Linked DNA regions of Homo sapiens. Changing the gene in region 6 together with the main gene of any one other region gives a genetic interaction. Each region holds a gene or a part of one and is shown on either strand. Other genes may lie near its edges.

Region 1 (4,087 bases), on a different chromosome or scaffold from region 6:
CATCTTATTGCTGTTGAGGACCCTGAAACACCGTTGTTTAAAGACTTCACACAGAAGGCTCTGAACTGAGCCACTGGGGAAGGGAAGTTTCAGTAACATGACACTAAAATGGCAGAGACGTTAAAAAAAGTTTTTCCCTTCTAGAGCTGTTTTGCGCGCATGCATGTCTGTGTGCATTGGGGCTTTTTAGACAGGCCTGCCCTGTGACTTTGTGGTAGAGGCAGAGAGAAGGAAATTGTCCCCTGAGCACGGTAGGGCCTTGCTGGGTGGGGTCAGAGGCCAGTAGTTCCAGGCCTTTCTCTGTGTCCAGCACAGACCCTTGTCCTTGCTGTGGAAATGATGAGGGATGGAGGGACAAGAGGAAGAATGAGAGGACACACGCCCTGGAGCCCTCACCACTGCCCTGGGGGTTGCCATCTGGAGGAGCCTGGGGATAAGGGTAACCCAGGGAGGCTGGGCACGAGGGAGCTGACTCCACGTTTTTCCCCCCGTTCCTCACCTTCGAGGGCCCTGCTAGGTCACCCCTATGCTGGCATGAAGAGCATGGGGCAATAAACCAGCACAGTCTCTGACCACTTGGAGCGTCTCATCCAGTGAGAGAGACAGCCGTTAAAAGCATAAACATCCAAATAAAGATGCCTTTCCAAGTTGCAGTGGGTGCTATGAAGGGAAAAGAATAGTGGGAAGGAAAAGGATGGAGTCGGTAGAGGGTCATACTTTGGGTGGTCCGGGAACCCTCGCCTGAGGAGTATCATCTCAACTGGGATGTAAGGATGAGTAAAGGGATGGGGGCAGAGCATTAGGGGGAAAGCCTGTGAATTAGAGGAACTGAGAGCAAGCCAGTGGGGCTTCACAGCGGGCGAGTGAGTGGGCGAGGAACGCGGGCGAGGCCATGTAGAGCCTCGAAGATCATGGGAAGTGGGACAGAATTACTACCCAGCCAACAAAGCAAGGAGACACCTTCATCCTGTCAGAAAACGGGGAAACTAACACAGAGGAGCGGCTTGGGATGCAGAGCCTCAATGTCCTGTCCACAAGATGGCAATGGTCACCATGACCTCTGGGACGCTTATGAAGGGCGATGACGAAGCACAGGGGACACGCCGGGCGGGCGCCTCTTCAGGGCTGGGGCTCCCCGCGCCCAGGGGCAGCCCAGGTCCCCGGAACCCAAGCCGCGTCTGCCTCCGGGCCGCGCGGGGGCGCTGTGGTCCGGCGGCGGCCCGGGGCGCTGCGTGGTCGCGGCAGGGGCGGAGGGGGCCGCGGGGAGGGAGGCGGGAAGAGCGCGGCACTTCCGCTGGCCGCTGGCTCGCTGGCCGCTCCTGGAGGCGGCGGCGGGAGCGCAGGGGGCGCGCGGCCCGGGGACTCGCATTCCCCGGTTCCCCCTCCACCCCACGCGGCCTGGACCATGGACGCCAGGTGGGGGCTAGGGCAGCAGCGAGCTCACGTGACCGAGCCCCCGGGCCACGTGACTGCCGCGCCTCAGCACGGGGGCCGGGTGGGGTCCCGGCTGCTCGGCCGTCGGCCAGCATATCGCTGCCCGGAGCCAGCGGGGATGGGAGCTGCGGCTTGGTTTTGTGCTCCTTGGGGAGCTTCGGGCGGAGGGGCTGGGGACCCTGACGTCCCGGATCGTGGAGGGGAGTGTGGGGGAAGGGGCGCTTCCTCTGACCTGAGCAGCCGGCTAGCGTTGGAGGGAACAGAGGAGACCTGTGTGGCCAGAGGGGCGGATCCGCCCCCGGGGAGGGAGGAAGCTCTGCCTGGCCAGCGCCGGCGCACCCCCTCCCCGAGAGAGAGAGAGAGAGAGAGGCTCTTTGTCCGGGCCGGAGCTGCAGCGGAGGGGGCGGGGAGGAGACTCCGGGCACTACTCCAGTGTGGTCCCCTCTGGAGGGCGGAGGGGATGAGGAGCTGCGCCCTAATCCTTATGTCCGCTTTCCTTACAGATGGTGGGCAGTGGTGGTGCTGGCTGCGTTCCCCTCCCTAGGGGCAGGTGGGGAGACTCCCGAAGCCCCTCCGGAGTCATGGACCCAGCTATGGTTCTTCCGATTTGTGGTGAATGCTGCTGGCTATGCCAGCTTTATGGTACCTGGCTACCTCCTGGTGCAGTACTTCAGGCGGAAGAACTACCTGGAGACCGGTGTGTGAAGAAAGGGCGGGGAAGTGAGCTAGGTCGGGAAAGAGGGTATTTGGCCAGCAGTCCAAACGGGATATGACTTGGAGAGGGCGGGAGGTCGGTAGGCCGGACAGCAGGGCAGGCTGGCTGCTCTGGGGAAGATGAAGTGCTATGGAGAAGATTTGGGGCTTGACTTTGTGTGCTTTCTTCAGGTAGGGGCCTCTGCTTTCCCCTGGTGAAAGCTTGTGTGTTTGGCAATGAGCCCAAGGCCTCTGATGAGGTTCCCCTGGCGCCCCGAACAGAGGCGGCAGAGACCACCCCGATGTGGCAGGCCCTGAAGCTGCTCTTCTGTGCCACAGGGCTCCAGGTGGGTAGGTGGGCTCAGCCTCTCTTCCTGGGTTGGATGCCGGTGGGCAGGGATTCTGTGAAGGTTTCCATTTTACCAGTCCCAGAGCTTTGCTGGCTGGTGTGTTTCGTGTCCTCCTCCCAGGGGCACACTGCACCTCCATCTTTGAGGTGTTTGGGGGAAATGCCCTTTTGTTTCTTCCTTTTCTCCTCTCCAGCACTGGTACTGAAAGTTCATGCTGTTATTTCAAGATGTCTAGTGCAGAAGAGAGGACTCCTCTTGCCCTATTCTCTGTGATTTCTACTGTGCCGTTATTATACTTCCTTCCTGCACTGGTGTCTCACATACTGTAAACCCACTGATAAAATTGTGGGGGAGCCATTCAGCCTTCCCCCAGTACTGCATGTGAGAGAGTGCTAACATGCTGACCCCATGGCATTTTGCAGTGGGTACTAGTTCCACCTTGAATATCATGTTGAACTACAGATACCCAATTCTGAGAGTTCTTGCCTCCCTGAATAGGTTTTTCACACACAGTTGATTCCCTACAAGGTGAATCCAGACTTAGGAGGGGAGAAGAAACTTCTACAGAGGAACCAAAAAGTGTATATTTTCCTTTGAATCACTTAGGCATAATCCTGAAGAGAGAGAGGTCAATTTTTGTCTACCTTTTCATTATCTTGCTTATTGTCTCCTTTGTCTCTACCTTCCCCAACAGGTGTCTTATCTGACTTGGGGTGTGCTGCAGGAAAGAGTGATGACCCGCAGCTATGGGGCCACAGCCACATCACCGGGTGAGCGCTTTACGGACTCGCAGTTCCTGGTGCTAATGAACCGAGTGCTGGCACTGATTGTGGCTGGCCTCTCCTGTGTTCTCTGCAAGCAGCCCCGGCATGGGGCACCCATGTACCGGTACTCCTTTGCCAGCCTGTCCAATGTGCTTAGCAGCTGGTGCCAATACGAAGCTCTTAAGTTCGTCAGCTTCCCCACCCAGGTGCTGGCCAAGGCCTCTAAGGTGATCCCTGTCATGCTGATGGGAAAGCTTGTGTCTCGGCGCAGCTACGAACACTGGGAGTACCTGACAGCCACCCTCATCTCCATTGGGGTCAGCATGTTTCTGCTATCCAGCGGACCAGAGCCCCGCAGCTCCCCAGCCACCACACTCTCAGGCCTCATCTTACTGGCAGGTTATATTGCTTTTGACAGCTTCACCTCAAACTGGCAGGATGCCCTGTTTGCCTATAAGATGTCATCGGTGCAGATGATGTTTGGGGTCAATTTCTTCTCCTGCCTCTTCACAGTGGGCTCACTGCTAGAACAGGGGGCCCTACTGGAGGGAACCCGCTTCATGGGGCGACACAGTGAGTTTGCTGCCCATGCCCTGCTACTCTCCATCTGCTCCGCATGTGGCCAGCTCTTCATCTTTTACACCATTGGGCAGTTTGGGGCTGCCGTCTTCACCATCATCATGACCCTCCGCCAGGCCTTTGCCATCCTTCTTTCCTGCCTTCTCTATGGCCACACTGTCACTGTGGTGGGAGGGCTGGGGGTGGCTGTGGTCTTTGCTGCCCTCCTGCTCAGAGTCTACGCGCGGGGCCGTCTAAAGCAACGGGGAAAGAAGGCTGTGCCTGTTG
Region 2 (3,500 bases), on a different chromosome or scaffold from region 6:
TGCAAAGCTTGAGGTTGCACAGCTTTCTCATTTTGTAGAGCAAATGACAGTTTTCATCAACAGACCAATGGATTCACAGCTAAGAATAAGACAACTTGAAAACTCCACGTTTTACAAAATCATTTTCTATTAAATTATAAAAACCTCTGGGATCCAAACTAGCAAAAAATGCCAATTTTCAAAAAAAAAATTTTTTAGTGGAAAATACAAATATGGGCTCTATCTAATTTTTAAAAAGCTGGAGCTGGGCATGGTGGCTCACGCCTATAATCCCAGTTCTTTAGGAGGCTGAGGTGGGAGGATCATTTGAGTTCAGGAGTTCAAGACCAGCCTGGACAACATAGCAAGACTCTGTCTCAATAAAATAAATTTTAAAAGCCGGGTGCCATGGCTCACACCTGTAATCCCGGCACTTTGGGAAGTCAAGGTGGGCAGGTCACTTGAGATCAGGAGTTCAAGACCAGCCTGGCCAATATGGTAAAACCCTGTCTCTACTAAAAATACAAAAATTAGCTGGGCATGGTAGCAGGCGCCTGTAATAATCCCAGCTATTCAGGAGGCTGAGGCAGGAGAACTGCTTGAATCTAGGAGGTGGAGTTTGCAGTGAGCTGAGATCACACCACTGCACTCCAACTTGGGTGACAGAGCAAGACTCTGTCTCTAAAATAAATAAAATTAAATAAATAAAAGAAAGCTGGATACACAGATAAACTTTATTCTCCATGCTCTGCTATCAGAACTCAGGAACAGGGCCTGGTGTGGTGGCTCACGCCTGTAATCCCAACACTTTCGGAGGCTGAGGCAGGCGGATCACCTGAGGTCAGAGGTAGAGGTAGACCAGCCTGATCAACATGGAGAAACCCCATCCCTACTAAAAATACAAAATTAGTCAGGTGTGATGGCAAATGCCTGTAATCCCAGCTACTCGGGAGGCTAAGGCAAGACAATCAGTTGAATCCGGAAGGCGGAGTTTGCGGTGAGCCAAGATGATGCCATTGTACTCCAGCCTGGGCAATAAGAGCAAAACTCCATCTCAAAAAAAAAAAAAAAAAGAACTCAGGAACAAAATAGTGTCATCTAAATTTCTGAATACATCAATAGGTATCCAAATGCAAAAACTCAGGAATTACTTAGACTCTATATCCCTTACTTGAGACCCAAATTAAGATTCTTTAACTTAATTTACAATTAAAATGTTAAATTATAATTTTATAATAAATGAAGCTAGGATACAAAAAACTATTTGGCAAATAAAAGCTATACATCCTGATGATTAGCCTAGAAGAGATAAATGGTAGCCAAGACATAATTCAGAGGTCAGCAGAAACTTAAAACTGGCCTATTTCATTGAATTTAAGATGCAATCATTTATAAGGCACATCACTTATGTAGTATTTAAAATGAATACTAATTAATCTATAAGCCATTAAACTAAAGATATCTCAATTTTAGCTATGTCAAAATGAACCCATGAACCAAAGTAAAACTCATTTTGTCCACATGCCACCAACAATGGCAGAGAGGTCCCAGAAAGCTTGGTTGTTGAGGACCCATCTAACAAGTCTCTTGTCCCATTTCCAAGGCAGTTTCAAACACTTAAGCCCAAGTCTGCAAGAGCCAATTTAGAAACAATGTTACTCAAGAGAATTTCAGAGTGCACTTCCTGCCATGTACAATGAAGGTAGCTACAATGAATAACATGTTTGATATTTAATGTTTTCATCTTCTCCATTACCCGCCAGGTACTTAGCTCAGAAATCAATCCAGAGCAACTAGAATTTTTAAATTATGATCTCTAAAAAGAGAAAAATTTACAACACGAAAGAACACTTCGCTTTGCTCTAATATTAAAAAATACAAAGAAATGAAAACTGGAGACCAGGTGCGGTGGGTCACGCCTGTAATCCCCAAGTTTTGGGAGGTCAAGGTGGAAGGATAACTTGAGCTCAGGAGATTGAAACCAGCCTGGGCAACATAGTTAAGAATCCATCTCTATTTCTATAAATGTATTTTAAAAAGAAAAAAATAAAAAACTGGAAACCAATTAAAATGTACTGCTGTCTAGATTCAGACTGCCAGGAAATCTGGCAATATCTGTTGTCAATTTTTTTTTTCATTCACTGGCTTCAAACATGACCTCAAGGAAACCTTCTGAAGTCACCTGCATGTTTGGATTCCCATTCAACATTCTTATGGCTCCCTATGTGCTTCTCCTTCCCAAAAATTAGATCTATTAAATGAATGATTGAACAAATCAAAGAATGAACATACCCGTTCCATGCTTGAACAAGGACGAAGTTGGTTCTCAAGAAATAATTTAAAATCTCAAAAAATTCTCAAAGTACAGAACACCATCTTCCGACTCTCTCCCAGTTCACTCCTTTGCCCTTTTCTTGCACGTTCTACTATGTACGCTTATGTATTGAACAGTTCATTAAGTCTTTCTATAAATAAAACCTACTTTTCTTTTTTTTTTTTGAGACAGTCTCACTCTGTCGCCCACGCTGGAGTGCAGTGGTGCAATCTTGGCTCACTGTAACCTCCGCCTCCTGGGTTCAAGCAATTCTCCTACCTCAGCCTCCCGAGTAGCTGGGACTACAGGCGCATGTCACCACGCCCAGCTACTTTGTATTTTTAGTAGACATGGGGTTTCACCATATTAGTCAGGCTGGTCTTGAACTCCTGACCTCGTGATCCGCCCACCTCGGCCTCCCAAAGTGCTGGGATTACAGGTGTGAGTCACCATGCCTGGCCTAAATGAAACCTACTTTAAAAAAAATAGAGGGAAATTCTGATTCCAGTGCTCCACATTCCCCTTACACACTATCAGTTATTTGCTATGTAAATGAAAATTCTTAGGGTATCTCCCAACAGGATCAAACTAATAAGCATACCACTCCAACAACTGTGTTTAAAACATTTGTAGAAATTTAAATTGACTAACCTCCAGCAGCAGCAAGCACTATTCTTGGCCCCTTATAATGTGTGGTTATATAATCCACTAAGTCCTTACGACTTATAGATCTGTAAATGAAGTAAAACAATTTTTAAAGGAAACCAAAAAAAAAACAGATCTTCACATAATATACCTGAAATCAAATTGGACCATAACTGTATCCTAAAATGCAGTCAGAAATAGGATACAGGCAACACATCAAAGAACTTCACCTTTTTTACATCAAAGAAAAAATACACCATTACTGGTTTATTCCCGAAGTACCTATGAACTCACGTGCTTGGGAGCTAGGTGGGACTAAAATGTAGCTAACTACAGTTTCACTTAGATTACCAGGGGGAAAATTACTTTCTGAAACATACTTTTTGAAAATTTGTAAATGTTTATTTTCAACATTCATAAATTCCCTTATACACCAAGAAATTCTGTTATACCTACTTGATATTTTCAGTTGGTCCCAAAATTGTCCGTCCAAGTGCAGTATTTTGATAAGCTGTGGCATGAAGATAATCAAAAACAACTTCTTGTAAATTGGTTTCAACTT
Region 3 (4,246 bases), about 16 Mb from region 6:
GGTAGGTCTGTGGTCTTTTGGGAATCACACTACACAACAGAAGGCAAGCTGGCAGTGAGCGGGCATTACCGCCTGAGCTCCCCCTCTTGTCAGATCAGCAGGAGCATTAGATTCTTACAGGAGCATGAACCCTATTGTGAACTGTGCATGTGAGGGATATAGGTTGTTGCATGCTCCTTAGGAGACTAATGCCTGATGATCTGAAGTGGAACAGTTTCATCCCCAACCCCACCCACGGAACAACTCCCTTCCACAAAACCGGTCTGTGGTGTCAAAAAGGTTGGGGACTGCTGCTGTACACTTTAGAATGCTTAGCAGCATTTCTGGTCCTCAAACTACTGTATGCCAGTATCCTCATCACCCCCAGTTGTGACAATCAAAAATGTTTCCAGACATCGCCAAATGTCCTGGTAGGGGGTGGGGAGGAACCATTCCCTGTTGAAAACTATAGTTCAGCAGGATGAAAACAAACTACAGAAATACAGAGGCAGAAGAAAGAGCATGTTTCCCATCAGTGTATTTTAAGATGTTTTAAGCTTCTCAGGAGGATCTTTAGATAATTTGGACAGTTTTCCTGTATAAGAGTGGTGGAAACTGCAGCAATGCAGCATTTCGGACCTGATCTCTCGCCATTGGCTTCACTCTACCTTGCTCTTCACGTGGAGGTCAGCTAGTAATAATTTCAGTTTCTTTTGGATCTCGGTCAGAGCATCAATTTTCTGCTCCAAAATGGACAAAGACCGGGCAATGCAAAAATCAATATCATGGTGTACTCCACCAGCTCTCTCCTGGATGTTTTCCAGCCATTGGCTAGATCCCTTCCCTGAAATTGTGGTATCCTTCCCTAACAGAGTGGGTAATGTTTCAACCTCTTCAATCTCTTTCTGCTCCTCACTCTGTACATAAGGTATTTTAATAAATTCATCCCTCTGAAGGGACATTTCTGAATTTCCGATGTGACTTTTTAACATCCTTGGTGCCTCATGTCCAATCGGATAGTGGCCACGATGGTAGGGCCTTACATCTACATTTAATTTTTTTACTCTGTTTGCATATCTTAAAGTGTTGAGAGTGTTTTCACAAGAGGTCATCCCCGGAGAGATGGTAGCAATCATGCAAGTGGAGGAGTTCTGGCCTATAAAGGAGTCCCGGAGCACCAGTGTGAGTTTGCTGGCTCTGAATGGGGTGTGAGGCTTGTTCTGACCCAAAGCCAGAATACATTCTTTGAGGGCTAGAAGACTCTTGTTAATCTCTGCCCCTTCCAGCTGCCTTTTCCGGCTGGCCTTGGTTGTATCTGCTCCTCTTTCATTCCCAGCTAAATCAACGAGGGAAAACTTGCCATGCATTATCCGTCCTGACTTCAGGATGATCTGGAACACTGCATGGCTCCTGGATGAGTGAGCGTTGACAGGTGTTTGCCTGGAAGTCCGACAGCTATTCCCTATTTCCACCAGGTTCAGCACTTCCTCCACACAACACACCTCTTTCTCCTGCAGCCCGACCACTTGGATTTGCTGATTGCCATCCTCAAGGACTTGCAGCTTCTTCTTCCAGTTCAACAAATCATACACCTTGCCCCCATAAATCTCAAAAAATGTCCCATAGACTTTGAGGTCCAGCTTCTCATATGTGGAGTTTCTGAGCAGGAGAAAGACATCCTGTGCCACCAGAGCATAAATGCCCTTAGAACAATCTTGGGCCGTTCCTGAAAAGTCTCCACCCATGGTGTACGTCTTCCCACTTCCCGTCTGCCCATAGGCAAAGCAGGTGGCCATGCCCTTGCGGAAGATGGACTCCACCAGTGGCTGGGCGGTGAACTGGTACACCAACTCGTTGGAGGCTTTGTCATCGAAGGCATGGTCGAAGCAGAAGGTCTGGTTCTGCAGGTAGCGAGTGAGGTCCACCTTTTGCTTGGACTCATGCACCATAACCACATTGTCCGAGGGGACGGTGATGATATCCAGGTCCTTTAAGGTTGTCTCTCGCTGGTTGAGAGGCCGCTTCCTCACGCAGACGCAGATGCGATGTTCTTGCGGGGGCTCCAGGACTGAGATCTTGCTGCTGTCCAGGTGCCTGCGATACTCTTCGATCATGTGCATGATTTCGTAGTTGGGGTTTCTGGTATTGACATCGAGGGCGCGTCTAGCTCGGATCTCCTGCTGCAGCCGCCTGCGCTTTTCCCGCTGCTCCTGCAGTTTCTGGATTTCCCAGAGGCAGGGAGACTTTTTCTGCTTCATCAGACAAGGTTTGCTGGGGACCCTCACATCCAGGCTGTCCCCTGAGGCTGTTTGGTTTTTCTGGGGGATCATCGCAACCCATTTCGTGGCGGTACGCTGGTCCCTGATGGCCGAAGAGGGCGCCAGAGCCAAGGGGGATAAGGGCGGGGGCGGCATGGGGTGTTCAGCAGAGTCCAGAGCTGGATTCAGCAGGAGTATGGTCTCCAGGTCAATCTTCTTGCCTTTTTTGACTGCTTTCTCCACCCACTCTACCGTGACCCAATAGTTTTCTCTGTTGATCTCCGTGACCACAGCGAGGTGGATCCGCTTGTCACTGCGCTGGATCGCCACGTAGATGCCCTCTTGGATGTCTCCGAAATGTGGCTTCAAGGGTTTCAGGGGCGAGAGACATGGGGATTCAGGGAGGCAGAACTGGCTGGCCATGGTGAGTGATGGAGGTATCAGGGAGCGCTCCAGGGCCCTTGGGGTTGGAGCAGCAGGACCCAAGCCAGCCTGAAGCGCCCGGAGCACTGAGCAGGGTTGCAGTCTGTGCCTGCCTTTGTGAGCCTAGCGCGCCGGGGCCCGGACTGGGGCCACTACGTCACAAAGGGATGAGATGAGGCGGCAGAACCTAGGGCTTAGGAGTGAATGGTACGGGAGCACAAAGGGATGGAGAGATTGTTCTCTGCCAGTGAGGGTGAAGGGGTTGGAGGAGGATGTGGCGTGCTCTCCGGATCATGGCGAGAAAGAACAGGTAACAGAGAAGCAACGGGAACCATGGCGTTGAAATTTAATTTATATGTCCCGTGTACATTTATGCCTAAGCATAAAAGGAGGCCTTGGCTGGCAGTCTCAAAGCTCAGTGCTTTAATTTGAGAATTGCTATGAAGTTTCCTTAAACTTTAACTCTCCAGTGATCAGTGGGAATAGATGAAGGTAGAGCTATTTGCAAATCTCAGGACTCGATATTCAACAGGATCCCAGAAAGGCTCCTCAAACCCGCCATCTTTGTTTTTTCACCTCCTTCAAAACGTGTAACTTGTTTAAGAGTCACAACTTAAAGTTATTACAGTTTAATCGGCTTTCTCATTACAAAATCAAAATGAGTAGAATGTAGCAGGTCGTTGTGGTAATTTGCTAATATGAAACTACCTTTCGTACAGCACCTGGGTTTGCAAACACAACATGTGTATCACATTCCAAGTGGCTCTGACAGCTATAAAGTGAGTTTTGTTGTGCTGTGGTCACCACCATTTTTGAGATTAGTTCAGTAATTACCTTTCCAAACTCCTTCAGTAATTACACTTCTGGCCTCATTATCCATAATTGGGAGAGAAAGAAAAGGCATTGTGTGGAAAGAGATAATTAATCTTATACTCCCCCCACCCCTGCAGTACTTGTGTGTGTCCTTTAGAAGTTGTTAAGCAAGGCTGGAAGGCAGCTAAGACCATCGGATGCAAAAATATATTTTGCCAAGATTGCAATATTTTCATGCATAAGAATTAGCTTATAAAATAAATGACATTGACTTTTAGACAGGCCAAGCTCAGAGTAAGGGTGATGCCTTACGTTCAGCTCACTAGCAACACCCGTGCATGTTGTCTTTTGGACTGTTGAATTTTATCATAATTATAGCTCCAAAGTAACATGAAGTAGCAAGTTACAACCTTCCCTAGGAATAAGGGCCTCTATAGAAATAAATTCTACTATAAACTAACTTTTCTGTTCAGTCAGTCTAGTAAAGCTTAGATTTTGAAAAGAAGGTGGAAGGAGGATACTGGATAAATTAGATAAGTAAGCAGTGCTCATTTCAAGAGGAGGTTGTATGCAGGTGGAGGGAGAGGAGAAAGGGCTTTAGGCAATTGTCTTCTAAAAAATATCATGTTTTATTTCCCCAAATTATCAATACTTAAAGTTGTGCTTTAAATCAGTTGTTCTTTCTTGGTTTCAAGGCCATGATGTAGATATTCTTAATACACTGTATTTGTCATTAGCACTCTGTCATTCAAGTTGGAGTACAGTGGCCTGAT
Region 4 (3,500 bases), on a different chromosome or scaffold from region 6:
TATTACAATGGCCTGGAAGCCTCCTTGGTCTCCCCTTCCCCCACATCCACTACCTCTCTGGTCACCTCTTCTCCCTCCGTGCTTACTCTACTTTAGCCATAAGGGCTCCTGACTGTTCCTTGAACTTGAGAGCCTTTGTACCTGCTGTTCATTCTACAGTCTTCATTTATATATCAATCATATGGTTACTTTCTTCAGGCCTTTACTCATTTTTATTATTTTTGGAGACAAGGTCTCACTCTGTGGTCAAGGCTGGGGTGCAGTGATCATAGCTCATTGCAGCCTCAAAATCCTGGGCTCAACCGATTCTTTTGCCTCAGCCTTCTGAGTAACTAGGACTATAGGCATATACGACCATGCCTGGCTAATATTTTTTATTTTTTGTGGATATGGGGTCTTGCTGTTACCCAGGCTGGTCTCAAACTCCTGGCCTCAAGCAGTCTTCTCACCTTGGCCTCCCAAAGTTATGGGATTACAGGTGTGAGCCACCATGCCTAACCATATCACTTTTTCAGACCACCCTAATTTAAACTGTAATTTGACCCTGCCAGCCCACCCACATTCAGCACTCATCTCTTCTCTGCTTTTTTTACATAGCCTCTTTAATTCAACATATCACACTTGTGTGATTTTCTTCTAACCTAAATATAAGTTCCAGTGAGAACAGTTTTATGTATTTTGTTCCTGCTGTATCCCTAACACCTAGAACTTAATATATGCTCAAGAAATATTTGTCAAATGAATTATTCTCACCAGGCAAGAGAAGTTGACAATACTGATGACCAATTCTCTTGACCCCTTCTAAGCTGGGCCACTAGACCACCCAGTATATGCGCTAAGCGTTCCCACTCCTCTGTGGGAGTACTGTGGAGTTTGGTGAGGTATAATAACATTTATATAATTATAACCCAGCACTGGACCCTGGATTTGAAAGAGTTTGGAGCTTGCTACAACGGATTTGGGTGGGAACTTTTTAGATATGTTTGATTACTAAGACTTCACATTACATTAAACAGTTAAAATGTAATTTTGTACTTTATAGCATAAATCACCTGTTTTGGATACAAAGCCCAAGGAGACAGGTGGAATCCTGGGGGAAGGCACACCGAAAGAAAGCAGTACTGAAAGCAGCCAGTCGGCCAAGCCTGTCTCTGGCCAAGACACATCAGGGAATACAGAAGGTTCACCCGCAGCGGAAAAGGCCCAGCTCAAGTCTGAAGCCGCAGGCAGCCCAGACCAAGGCAGCACATACAGCCCCGCAAGAGGTGTGGCTGGACCACGTGGACAGGATCCGGTCAGCAGCCCCTGTGGCTAGAGGAACACCAGCACAAACGACAGCCTCAAGTCTCCTTCGAGCTTTGTAAAGTATACTCTTCACTCTCTTTCTCTTCTCTGCAAGAATTCTGATTACTACAAAGGTGCCAACTTCAACATTCACATTTCAACTTCAACATTCACATTTTTACTGACAATTAGAATTAACAAACACGTTATATATGTAAAAGCTTTTCATTTCATCTTCTCTTTGATATTTACATCCCATAAAGTAAGAAGTGTTTATTTTAAGATGAACAGATGACAGGCATCACTGATTCTGGATAGTTAAGGAGGCCAGTTTGAATTGGGGACATTGAAAAAGAAATTTTATTGTTACAGGCACTTACGGGAACCCACTAACCAATTTACATTGCCTAGTGAATCCACTAGAGTTAAGGCCACCCACTTGATGCCTCCAGCATCTTCATGCAGCCATGGAGTATCGTTACCAGGATCAGTCTGACTGACACCTCAGCTTATCTCTACGCAGGCTGCCCACAGGTCACTGTGGCTGTAGTTTCATCTTTTCCACAGCTATTACTACGCCTGCATCCTTATTGTTCCTTTTACTTTGTTTACTTAGAGAAAACTGAAGACTGCCAGGGCAATTTAGATAACATAGCTTGTTATATTGGTAATCTGTTTTACAGAGTCAGTCGACTGAAAATGACTTTATTCTTTTCCCCCACCAATTGAAGTGCATGGGCTTTTTATAAAACCTATTTTTTGTGTTACTCAGAATCCTAGCAGTGGAGACTATTAGATATTACCATATCTTAATTCATATTATAGCAAATCATATTGTCTTGTCCATAGGAAGTTTGCATTTTTAGAGATCTATACATAGAGAATACCATGATGAGGAAGAAGAGAGTTGGGTGTCTTCCTTAACTGCAGACAGGACATCAGTCAGCACTTTACATTAGTCTTTCTGATTATCAAAAGCATTCCTCATTTTAAACTTTTTAAAAAGCAATGCATAAATTTTGTACCTGTCCTTAGCAGACTTCACAGACATCAGGTGTCCTTTGTTTTAACCATATTCACACTACAAGTTATGTTCAACTGCTTACTAAAAGTGATACCAGTCAGGAATAAAGTCTTTAAATTTTCATGCAGATATTTGTATCCCAAGCACTTGCTTTTTTATTTTAATATGAAATGCAGAATACACATTTTTGGATCCAGGAAGTGTTACTTACGTGCCTGTAACAATGTAATTTTAGGCCAGGTGCAGTGGCTCATGCCTACAGTCCTAGCACTTTGGAAGGTTGAGGGAGGATGATCGCTTAAGTTCAGTTGTTGAAATGCAGAATACACATTTTTGGATCCAGGAAGTGTTACTTACGTGCCTGTAACAATGTAATTTTAGGCCAGGTGCAGTGGCTCATGCCTACAGTCCTAGCACTTTGGAAGGTTGAGGGAGGATGATCGCTTAAGTTCAGTTGTTGAAATGCAGAATACACATTTTTGGATCCAGGAAGTGTTACTTACGTGCCTGTAACAATGTAATTTTAGGCCAGGTGCAGTGGCTCATGCCTACAGTCCTAGCACTTTGGAAGGTTGAGGGAGGATGATCGCTTAAGCTCAGTTGTTCAAGGCTATGTACTAAAAATAAAACTAGCCAGGCATGGTGGTACACGCCTGTAGTCCCAGCTACTTGGAGGGCTGAGGCAAGAGGATCGTGAGGTGGCAGTGAGTTATGATCGAGCCACTGTACTCCAGCCTGGGTGACAGAGCAAGACCTTGTCTCAAAATTATACATGTTAATATATTCTAGTTTAATATTGCAAACATCTTTAGAATTTCATCAGAAACGTGATTTTTTCTAAGAAATGCAAAAGGATTTTAGGATTTTTAACACAGAGGACATGTTTAACAAATGAATCCTGACAGACACCTGCAGTTTAGAATAAATTTGTGAACATCCATGCGTATAAAGTGTCCTCTTGGGACAAGACATGTTCACACTGACTTGGGGAATATGCCCCCAAGGTGAGAGCTGTCTTTTGAACTGTGATCTGACTCTGAAAAGTAGTGAATGCCCCAGGTGATAGACTGTAACTGTGAGTGGAATTAATGCTGCTTGCATGCCTTTTAATCCAAAACCAAATTCTTTTAAAAAATTTTTAAATAAAATTTCACCTTTGTATTCTTTCATTACAGATATCCATTTGGGGATG
Region 5 (3,163 bases), on a different chromosome or scaffold from region 6:
ACGAAGGTTGGAAAAAAGCTGGGAACAGCAGACAGCAAGCCAGAACAGTCTGTGTGGGTTCGTGTTGCTTTGTTATCAGCTGCTCTTCACCATGGAGGCTTACGTGGTCACAGCCCTGGTGCTGTGTTCAGCCAGGCCTGGCACCCACTGAGCACACAAACAGTCACTCACCACTGAATTGTGACGTAGGATTAAGAAGCTACCACTCTGGTCATCTAACCCCTCCATCAGCACCGACGGACTGAATCGGGGGTTCTCAAACTGAGGCAATAACCAGGAAATGATGATGATTAACATCTGGGATTTGGAGTGAAGTGACTATCGGTTATGTAAGTAATCTTTTCAAAAAGCAAGAAGCCATCTTTTCTATCACAATTCAACCGGTTAAGATACAGTTTAACTCTGCGATTCCATGAAGCCTGTAAGTCTTTATTCTGGTTTGTCTCACCAGATAACAGCTCCCACTAATGACAACCAGTTTAAAAAAAAAAAAAAAAAAAAAGACTGCAATAGCAGATTCAGTGCATTGCTGGAACAATTAGAAGTGCTCTGTAACAAAAGCAAAGGTTTTCTCCCTCATATTCTATTTTAGGCTATACTTTTTTTTTAACTAGCTTGATTTTTAAGTCATTTGGCTATAATTTGAGTCCTCCTCCAAAGTTGACAAAACTTCATCGGTAGATATATGTTTTAAAATGCCCCACTTCATGTGAAGTTTCAAAGCTTATTTAAACTCAAATTTAAAACAGTAAAGATATTGTAGTTCACTTGGAAAGCTAAGATTTGAATTGTTTTGAGACTGACATCTCTGCTTCAGCTGTGACAGGGGATAAGAAAGGACTATCCCTACTATTGACAGAGGCAGACTGAAGAGAATCTCTCACCACTGCCCTCAAAGCACCACCAAACTAATTTAGTGTTTCAAGTTCCCTGATATGGCCTGCACTCTGAGCTCTAGATCTTTGTCAGTGCTGTCCTCTGAACCATCTCCCCATCTCCTCATCCAGGAAGCAGCAGAGGTGAAGAGTTCCTCCCACTCAACATGTGGGCACTTCACCTCTGTCATATACGTGTCCTATCTGTTGACTCATTCATCCCTTCATTAGCCTCTAAGGACATTAAGCATCTTCAACCCTAGGCCTAGAACACTGCTAATAGCCCCAAATCTCCACAGAATAACACTTTCTTGCAAACCCTAGTTTATTATTAAGCCTAAATTACTCCAAAGTACTTCTGGGTTAGCCACCTACCCCTCTTACAGCACAAAATCTACACTGAAATATTTTACATTTAGCTCACGGTTAGCTCCCAGGGCTTTGGTAAACCAAACAACTTCCACCTCTAAAGTTACATACCTGGAAGATGGAGCATGTACTGACCACCCAAAATCTGCAATTTTAAGCTCTCCAGCTGATCCAAGAAGTAAGTTCTCTGGCTTAATGTCTCTATGAATAACTCTCTTCGAATGACAGTAAGACAGGGCATTTGCCAATTCTGTTATATACTGTTAAAACAATATTGAAAGCCTATGTTTTAGATTTTATATAACACAAGTTAATATTAGACATCTCTTCCGAAAGGAACACAACATAGATTTAACATGGTTTGCAGGTTTTGGCCAGGCACAGTGGCTCACACCTATAATCCCAACACTTTGGGGGACTGAGGTGGGAGGATCACTTGAGCCCAGGGGTTCAAGACCAGCCTGGGAAACATAGCAAGACTCCATCTCTACAAAAATTTAAAAATTAGCTGAGCGTGATGGTGCATGCCTGTAGTCCCAGCTACTTGGGAGGCTGAGGCAGGAGGATTGCTTGAGACCAGGAGGTCAAAGCTGCAGTGAGCCATGATCACACTTCAGCCTGGGTGACAGAAGGAGACCCTGTCTCAAAAAGGAAAAGACAAAACAAAAAATACATTTTGCAGGTTTTAAAGCAAGGATTGTAGAAATTATATAGGAGTCTACACACACACACACACACACACACACACACACACATCAACTGAACCAATTTATAGTGGTTAGCATGAAGTGAAATTACCCAATGCTTAGTCATCTCTGCTAATACAGCTGGTGTGATGTTGAAAGTCAGAAAAGACATTCAGCCAGTTAGAGCTAGCTCTTAGGCTGGTGCCATGTCAATGCAAAACACAGTTACTTTTGCACCAACCTAAAGTTACAACACCATACGGCAACAAATGGCCCTGCAGCCAGGAAGTAAGACAGTGCTGAAGAACTGGTACAAATTAAGGATTCAGATGTGTAAATACTGCCTTTTTCTTTTTTAGAAAAAAAAAATGAACTTTGCAAGTATAGTCAATTCCCTTTTTTAAAACCAAGGTCATTCTGTGACAGAAGAATTTGTTTAAAGCTAAAAATTTACTTCAAGAATATCAGGAGAAAAAATTATCCTGAACAATAAACAGAAACTAAAAAGCAGTTGCACTGACATATTAAATAGCATGTTAAATTTTGGGTTACACTAAGTCAGCATAGAAGTACATAAGAAATCAGTCCTTTTGTTAATTTTATTTCCTTAAGTTACTATCTTTTTTTTTTTTAATAGAGATGGGGGTCTCACTATGTTGACCAGGCTGGTCTCAAACTCCTGGCCTCAAGTGATCCTCCCATCTCAGCCTCACAACGTGCTAGGATTACAGACATGAGCCACTGCACCCGACCGAATTACCATCTTGTAAGAAAAGTTTTCCTGGCCAGGTGCAGTGGTTCATACCTGTAATCCCAGCACTTTGGGAGGCCAAGACAGGTGGATCACCTGAAGTCAGGAGTTCGAGACCGGCCTGACCAACATGGTGAAACCCTGTCTTTACTAAAAATACAAAAATTAGCCAAGTGTAGTGGTGCATGCCTATAATCGCAGCTACTCGGGAGGCTGAGGCAGGAGAATTGGTTGAACCCAGGAGGTAGAGGTTGCAGTGAGCCGAGATCATGCCATTGCACTCCAGCCTGGGCAACAAGAGTAAAATTCCGTCTCAAAAAAAAGCAAGAAAAAGAAAAGTTTTACAGTCCCTATCGCTAAGATTTAGCAAACAAGTCCAGTATGTATGTATTTACTTATTTATTTTTAAGAGACAGGGTCTCACTCTGTCACCCAGCCTGGATTGCTATGGCATGATCATACCTCACTGCAGCCTTGAACTC
Region 6 (3,500 bases):
ACCAGCCTGGCCCACATGGTGAAACCCCATCTCTACTAAAAATACAAAAATTAGCCAGGCGTGGTGGTGCATGCCTGTAATCCCAACTACTCAGGAGGCTGAGGCATGAGAATCACTTGAACCCGGGAGGCAGAGGTTGCAGTGAGCCAAGATTGCATCACTGCACTCCAGCCTGGGCAACAGAGCAAGACCCTGTCTCAAAAACAAAAACAAACAAACAAACAAAAATATATATATGCTTGAAAATTGCTAAGAGAGTAGATTTTAGTTGTTCTTACCACACAAAAAAATAAGTATTTGCGGTAATGGGTATATATTTGAGGTAATGGATTTGTTAATTAGCTTGATTTAGCCATTCCACAATGAGTACATCTATCAACACATGTTGTACATCATGAATATACACAATTTTTATTTGCCAAAAAATGTTTAAATATGCCATAAGTAAATTAAATAAAATAAATTTCTTAGAACATTATTTATAAAAATAAAGCAAAAAACCAGATCTGTCCAAATATAACTAATAAACTGACTCTCATTATTTAACACTCAAGAGTTGGCTGGCATCAGGATTTTCATAATACCATGGCCATTAAACAGTTTTCGTGAATCCAGGCCTTCGTTACCCATCTCTTCTGCTTCTTCCTCACCTTACTGACTTCTTTCTCATGTACACAGAGTGCGGAATATCTGTCTCATGAGTCACCAGCCTTTGGGCAGAACCCAAAAAATTAGGTGAACTAGAAATATATTGTTGCTAAGTGGCTCGGTTTATCAGACAATTCTAAAATGCCTACTAGGCTGCCTAGCTGCATACTTTTCTGCCTAATGTACAGGACCTCCATCTTGTGACTGTCAAAACAGGCTCCTAAATTATTTTGCATCATTTGGTGACAGGCAGTCTATACTCTTGTGCAACCAACAGGTGCCCAATAAATGCTTGGAATATGCAAGGAACTTGGCATTGTTTAATATAATTGAAAAAGCAAGCATGGACTTTGAAACTTTCCTGAATTTGAATTCTGTCTCCACTCCTTATCACCTTTAAGAATTTAGGGCCTGGTGCGGTGGCTCATGCCTATAATCCCAGCACTTTGGGAGGCTGAGGCGGGTGGATCACTTGAGATCAGGAGTTCGAGACCAGCCTAGCCAACATGGTGAAACCCCATCTCTACTAAAAATATAAAAAATTAGCCGGGCATGGTGGTGCATGCTTATAATCCCAACTACTTGGGAGGCTGAGGCAGGAGAATCGCTTGAACCCAGGAGGCAGAGGTTGCCGTGAGCCGAGATCCCACCATTGCACTCCAGCCTGGGCAACAAGAGTGAAACTCCATCTAAAAAAAAAAAAGAATTTAGGGAAGTTATTATCTTCCTGCATCTCCTTTCTCCTCCTATGTAAAATGAAAATAATAATGTCTAATTCATAAGCGTTTCATAAGGATATGATGAAAGCCCGATGCAGTAGCTCACGCCTGTAATCCCAGCACTTTGAGAGGCTGATGTGGGTGGGTCACTTGAAGTCAGTAGTTCGAGACTAGCCTAGCCAACATGGTGAAACCCTGTCTCTACTAAAAATACAAAAACTAGCTGGGCATGGTGGCAGGCGCCTGTAATCCCAGCTACCCGGGAGGCTAAGGCAGGAGAATCGCTTGAACTCAGGAGACTGAGGTTGCGGTGAGCTGAGATCGTGTCACTGCACTCCAGCCTGGGCAACAGTGCCAGACTCTGTCTCAAAAAAAAAGCCCGGGCATGGTGGCTCACGCCTGTAATCCCATAATCCCAGCACTTTTGGAGGCCAAGGTGGGCGGATCACCTGAGGTCAGGAGTTCGAGACAGCCTGACCAATATGGAGAAACCACATCTCAACTAAAAATACAAAATTAGCAGGGCATGGTGGCGCATGTCTGTAATCCCAGCTACTCGGGAGGCTGAGGCAGGAGAATCACTTGAACCCAGGAGGCGGAGATTGCAGTGAGCTGAGATTGCACCGTTGCGTTCCAGCCTGGGCAACAAGAGCGAAACTTCGTCTCAAAAAAAAAAAAAAAAAAAAAAGTGATACCACAACAGCTAGAAGAGGAGGCCAAACTGTTTTTTTTTTTTTTTTGAGACAGAGTCTCGCTCTGTCACCCAGGCTGGAGTGCAGTGGTGCGATCTCGGCTCACTACAACCTCCGCCTACCTGGTTCAAGTGATTCTCCTGCCTCAGGCTCCTGAGTAGCTGGGAGTACAGGCGCGCGCCACCACGCCCAGCTAATTTTTTGTATTTTTAGTAAAGACGGGGTTTCACAGTGTTAGCCAGGATGGTCTCAATCTCTTGACCTTGTGATCCACCTGCCTCGGCCTCCCAAAGTGCTGGGATTACAGGAGTGAGTCACCGCGCCCAGCCCCCATTTTACATTTTTTTATTTGTGCCCACTGCCTTTTTTCAGAGGATGCAGTTAGCAATTTCAGCCACTGGATGGTGCAAATTCACAAGAGTCCAGTGAAAGTTCCTCAATTACGGTCCAAGGTGCACCTGTTGCTACACTGCACCAAGTGAAGGAGGGTGGGGTAAAGGAAAGACTTTTTGGATCTGAAATTTCAGTATAAACATGGATCGAAGTTCACTAGAAGTTCAGATTGAGGGAAATTTTTAGAATTTGATCACTGACAAATCAGGTCATTGAATAAGGAAAGACAAAAGAAAAGTGTTGTAATAATGAAGAGGAAGAGAAAAAGGAACAGATGATGAAATATGAGGGAAAATAAGTCTAAAGAGATGAATTCAAGTGTTAGCAACAATTATAGTATGACCCTTTACTGGTTTGCATCTCCCTGGTAACTGATAGCAACTTTGATATAAAAATAAAGCTTACTTCATTCTCTTCTAGAAAGTCAGCTATGCTACCCTTAGCTTATCCATTTGGTGGTGTGACATTATCAACAAATATTTTTAGTATCTGCTATGAACATGGTGCTTTGTTGATACAAAGTAATATAGAGATATACAAATTAACACAGATACTGGGCTTCAAGCAGAAGAACCAGTAAGTACATATAAGAAGATAAGTAATTGACTGGATTAAGAAAATGTGGCACATATACACTATGGAATACTATGCAGCCATAAGAAAGGATGAGTTCATGTCCTTTGTAGGGACATGGATGAAGCTGGAAACCATCATTCTGAGCAAATATCGCAAGGACAGAAAACCAAACATCGCATGTTCTCACTCATAGGTGGAAATTGAACAATGAGAACACTTGGACACAGGGCTGGGAACATCACACATCAGCGCCTGTCGTGGGGTGGGGGGATGGGGGAGGGATAGCATTAGGAGAAATACCTAATGTAAATGACGAGTTAATGGGTGCAGCAAACCAACATGGCACATGTATACATATGTAATAAACCTGGACATTGTGCACATGTACCCTAGAATTTAAAGTATAATACTACTACTACTATTACTAATAATAGGGAAGATAAGTAATTCAAGGCAACCTGAGGGCCATTGT
Region 7 (4,087 bases), on a different chromosome or scaffold from region 6:
CGCCCAGCTCTCGGGCTCCTGCAAGGGCTGCAGCTGAATGATCGTGGTGTTGGTGTCTGGGCCTTCCAGCACGTGCGTTAGGTGTCCCCCCAGCGACGCGTTGCCCTGGTACCACACGTGATAGGGGTCGCGGAAGTAGGAGATCTGGAGCATATGAAGTCTTTGGAGGCCTGCGGGCAGAGTCAGCTTCAGCCTGGGCCGGCGTGGGAGGGGGCGGCGGGCAGCGGAAGATAATAACCCCCTACCTCGAGGCTGGCCGCCCGCCTTCTCGACCCTTCATAAACTATAATGTGCCCTCCCACCGCTTCTCCCGTTTGACGCTGACAGTAACTCTGCCAGGAGGACAGGACAGGGATTATTATCTCCGTTTTACAGATGAGGAAACTGAGGCCTGCAGTGGAAGAGACACTCCTTTCTGCCTCCTTTTTCACCCTCGGCTCTCCCTCCCCCCGTTTCCTGTTAACCAACGGAACAAATGGTTAACAAATCCTGACCTGAATAAAATTCCAATTCCATCGCCTGTTCTCCATCTCCTCTTCCACTGCCCTGATTCAGGATTCATCCGTCTCATCTAGACTGGGGTAGTAACTTTCTACTTCATCTCCCCGTTCTCTATTCCGACCTCCACCTGACCCAGGGATGAGATCATGTCCTTTTCCTACTTAAAATCTTCCAGTGCCATAACCCCCTCCCCTTCATTAATCAAAAATAATCATAGCCAATGTCGATTCAGTGCTTATTATAACCTGGGCAATGGGCTTTACATACATTATTATCTTTGTGCCTTTCCCCAGTGGCTTAATGCAATAGCTACTATTATTAACCCCAGTCTACATGGGAAACTGAGACAGAGATAGTGTAGCAGAGCCAAGGTTTGCACGTAGGCAGTCAAGTCCAGCACTCAGCCATTCTGCTACACTGCCTCCCCACAGGATCAAGTCCAGAGTCTTTAGCCTGGCATTCAAGGCTGCTAGAGACCTGGCCCCTGCTGCCTTTTCTGGCCGCTTCCCGCTGCTTATATATCAAACTAGTTGGGATTCCTCATGCTGCCTTTGGCTGACACATGAATAGCATGTCAGGATTGCTCTGCCTCCCTTTTTCTGCCTGGCGAAGTTTATTCATGATTTAAGACCCAGCTCAGAGACTGGGCGCGGTGGCTCATGCCTGTAATCCCAGTACTTTGGGAGGCCGAGGCGGGCGGATCACTTGAGGTCAGGGATTCAAGACCAGCCTGGCCAACATGGCGAAACCCCATCTGTACTAAAAATACAAATATTAGCCAGGCGTGGTGGTACATGCCTGTAGTCCCAGCTACTCAGGAGGCTGAGGCAGGAGAATCGCCTGAACCTGGGAGTTGGAGGTTACAGTTAGCTGAAATTGTGCCACTGCATTCCAGCCTGGGTGACAGCACAAGACTCCATCTCAAAAAAAAAAAAAAAAAAAAAAAAGAAAAAAGAAAGAAAAGCAAAGAAAAAAAGACCCAGCTCAGTTGCCCTCTTCTTGGAAATTTTTTTCTGATGCCCCACGAGACACAGTGTGTCTGTTTCAGTGATCCCAGACCACCATATATTAGTGTGTATCTCACGGGATACTACCTGGCTGTCTCCAAACACACACAGGCCACACTGGACTCCTCTAGGCTATGGAACCATGCTTGGTAATCTCTGCTTCCTACACCCAGAAAAGAGGCTGGCACAGAGTTGATGCCCAGAGCACATTTGGATGAGTCCGGGGTTGTAAATCTGTGTGTGTGAGTGGGTCCTGTCTGTGTTTGCATTTGAGAAGTTGTGCTTTGTATCTGCAGATGTGAATAAGTATATTTATGGATAACCCTAGACATGGTCCTTAACTACTCTGTGACCCAGTTTCCTCCTCATAAAATGGAGATAGTAATAATATTACCCACCTTTAGGGGTTTGTGCAAGTTAAATGGGTCAATACATGTATTAACCATAGTGAGCACTCATTGAATACTGGTTATTATTTGCTGCCTCTCTGAGGGGGAGACTGAAGTTACGGGGATTGTGAGAGAGGGGAAAGGAGGCCCCTGTGCAATTATAATGGAGGGTAATAACTCCCTTTTCTGCTTAAACAGGGCCACTTCAGTAGCCTGATCGCCCATAAGTTCTATTAGGCACAGCATCTCTTTCTCCCCAGTTCCACCAGCTGCGACCAGTCTCCTTCCATTTTCCCTAGCCTCCCCTAACCTCTCTCTGCCCCACTCTTCCCCCACTTCTTCCATCAGTTTTCCCAGGGTCTTCCCATTCCCTCCATTTCTCTTCTCTTCTGAGCCTCTTCCCGTCTCCCCTAGATGTACCCCTATCTACCATCACCCTCAGTTCCCCTTTCTCCCCTCTCCCTGGGGCTGATTCTCCTACCCTCTCTGCTGGTTTCTTTCTCATGTTTCCAGTCATCCTGTTTCCCCTAGCCTCTTTCATCTCCCCCTTTTCAGGGGCTTAAATGTACTAACTCACCTTGGCTTTGGGACACGAACCAGTCCCCAAGACTCTGCCTGCCCTGTAGAGAGATCTAGCCAGCTGCAGACACAGATGCTGTGAGATAAGCTCTCCTGTGGTCTTGCCATGTGCCCAGATAGACTGAGATTCTCCAGAACCATCCTGAGGCAGGAGATGTGCCCCCGACTCACCATCTGAGGCGTCTTGGCTACAAAAGGCCCAGCCAGACAGCAGCAGTATCGGCAGCAATGTTGTCAACATCCTGAAGTTGAGGCTCCGGACCTGGGTTCCTGGCTCGGGCCGGCTGCGGGCTCCGCTGGCTGCAGTCTAGGGAAAAGAGAAGTGAGGACCGTCTGGGAGGGGCGGAGTCTGGGCAGAGGAGGATGGAAGGAGGCCAGGAGATGGGAGGAGGAAGAGGCTTATAAAGTGTTATTTCTACTGTGTCTCATTTCCTACTAGGGGGCCGGCCTCCCTCCTGCCCTCCCTCTGCCCCGCCCTTCATTGCTCCCTCCTGCCCAGACCTGCCTTTTCCCTTCTCCTTGGGCTGCTTCCTAGGAACCAGGAACAGGGAGCGGAAAAGGGGGAGAAGGGCTTGGTGAGAAGTCCTGCCGGCGCTGACTCAGGGGGTGGGGCATCTACTTTCAACTTAGAGCACACTCCTGGGAGTAGGATCAGCAGGTTGCTGATGGGGAGATTGAGGTCCAGAGAGGTGCAGGGACTTGCCCAAAGTTTATATATCATGGTGGTGACAGATCCAAGATTAAAATTTAGTTTTCCAGTATAATGGCTACATTTTACCAGAATTTTAAGTAAATAACAATTACATAATCCGGGATCTTGGTCTCAGAAGTAGTCATAAAATGAGTGTAAAGCAGTTCACTGCAGCATGTTTTTAAAAAATAGGAGAGAATTATGAGCAATCTGTATAAATCTCAGAAGATGATTGGTTACCTAAAGCAATCTTTTTGAAACTGAGGTCATAATTTATTAGTGGACAATGAAATCAATTTAGCAGGTCATGGTTACCATTTTTAAAAAATGAAATAGGACAGAATACAAAATTTCAGCGCGTCACCCTTAGTAAGAGAAAGTGTTATGTCATGAAATATTTGCTCAGTTGTATATGTGTGCTTTGGTTTTGTGTGTGTATGTTTCTATGATGAGTTTTGGATAGCAGTGTAAAATGCGTCCCTTACTCTAGGAAGCAAGTAGAAAAGCTTTAAAGTCACTCCTCCGAGCATGCTGCTGGCACTTTGGGAGGCCGAGGTGGGCAGATCACTTGAGGCCAGGAGTTTGAGACCAGCCTGGCCAATATGGCGAACGTCTCTACGAAAAATACAAAAATTAGCTGGGCATGGTGGTGCATGCCTGTAATCCCAGCTACTTGGGAGACCGAGGCATGAGAATCGCTTGAACCTGGGAGGTGGAGGTTGCAGAGGGCCGAGATCACACCACTGCATTCTAGCCTGGGTCATGCGGCAAGATTCTGTCTGAAAAAAAAAAAGAAAAGATTTCACTTCTGTTCAAATAATACATATGTAATTTCATCCTCATATATATATATAAAATTTATTATTATTTTTTTGAGACAGGGTCTAGCTCTGTTGCCCAGGCTATAGTGCAGTGAAGCA

The links.
Region 1: changes in ACACA (region 6) and SLC35B2 together harm fitness more than expected from each alone (negative genetic interaction), as found in Homo sapiens cells (one large-scale study listed by BioGRID).
Region 2: changes in ACACA (region 6) and PMPCB together harm fitness less than expected from each alone (positive genetic interaction), as found in Homo sapiens cells (one large-scale study listed by BioGRID).
Region 3: changes in ACACA (region 6) and KIF2B together harm fitness less than expected from each alone (positive genetic interaction), as found in Homo sapiens cells (one large-scale study listed by BioGRID).
Region 4: changes in ACACA (region 6) and CLCC1 together harm fitness more than expected from each alone (negative genetic interaction), as found in Homo sapiens cells (one large-scale study listed by BioGRID).
Region 5: changes in ACACA (region 6) and AURKA together harm fitness more than expected from each alone (negative genetic interaction), as found in Homo sapiens cells (one large-scale study listed by BioGRID).
Region 7: changes in ACACA (region 6) and PROCR together harm fitness less than expected from each alone (positive genetic interaction), as found in Homo sapiens cells (one large-scale study listed by BioGRID).

The regions. Positions count from the first base shown.
Region 1 is NC_000006.12:44,254,729-44,258,815, reverse strand, and holds the start of SLC35B2 (adenosine 3'-phospho 5'-phosphosulfate transporter 1), read left to right. Parts: upstream 1-1,287; 5' UTR 1,288-1,405; coding exon 1,406-1,416; intron 1,417-1,527; exon of another isoform or gene 1,528-1,634; intron 1,635-1,937; coding exon 1,938-2,131; intron 2,132-2,319; coding exon 2,320-2,474; exon of another isoform or gene 2,475-2,478; intron 2,479-3,171; coding exon 3,172-4,087. UniProt on the Homo sapiens protein: Probably functions as a 3'-phosphoadenylyl sulfate:adenosine 3',5'-bisphosphate antiporter at the Golgi membranes.
Region 2 is NC_000007.14:103,303,935-103,307,434, reverse strand, and holds part of PMPCB (mitochondrial-processing peptidase subunit beta isoform 1 precursor), read right to left. Parts: coding exon 3,395-3,500; intron 3,025-3,394; coding exon 2,945-3,024; intron 1-2,944. UniProt on the Homo sapiens protein: Catalytic subunit of the essential mitochondrial processing protease (MPP), which cleaves the mitochondrial sequence off newly imported precursors proteins. Preferentially, cleaves after an arginine at position P2.
Region 3 is NC_000017.11:53,821,448-53,825,693, reverse strand, and holds KIF2B (kinesin-like protein KIF2B), read right to left. Parts: upstream 2,768-4,246; 5' UTR 2,661-2,767; coding exon 639-2,660; 3' UTR 501-638; downstream 1-500.
Region 4 is NC_000001.11:108,932,485-108,935,984, reverse strand, and holds part of CLCC1 (chloride channel CLIC-like protein 1 isoform 1 precursor), read left to right. Parts: intron 1-1,042; coding exon 1,043-1,315; 3' UTR 1,316-1,360; exon of another isoform or gene 1,361-1,365; intron 1,366-1,439; exon of another isoform or gene 1,440-3,483; 3' UTR 3,484-3,500. UniProt on the Homo sapiens protein: Anion-selective channel with Ca(2+)-dependent and voltage-independent gating. Permeable to small monovalent anions with selectivity for bromide > chloride > nitrate > fluoride.
Region 5 is NC_000020.11:56,372,053-56,375,215, forward strand, and holds part of AURKA (aurora kinase A), read right to left. Parts: intron 1,505-3,163; coding exon 1,356-1,504; intron 1-1,355. UniProt on the Homo sapiens protein: Mitotic serine/threonine kinase that contributes to the regulation of cell cycle progression.
Region 6 is NC_000017.11:37,396,837-37,400,336, reverse strand, and holds part of ACACA (acetyl-CoA carboxylase 1), read left to right. Parts: intron 1-3,500. UniProt on the Homo sapiens protein: Cytosolic enzyme that catalyzes the carboxylation of acetyl-CoA to malonyl-CoA, the first and rate-limiting step of de novo fatty acid biosynthesis.
Region 7 is NC_000020.11:35,170,785-35,174,871, reverse strand, and holds the start of PROCR (endothelial protein C receptor precursor), read right to left. Parts: upstream 2,801-4,087; 5' UTR 2,784-2,800; coding exon of another isoform or gene 2,718-2,783; coding exon 2,648-2,717; intron 171-2,647; coding exon 1-170. UniProt on the Homo sapiens protein: Binds activated protein C. Enhances protein C activation by the thrombin-thrombomodulin complex; plays a role in the protein C pathway controlling blood coagulation.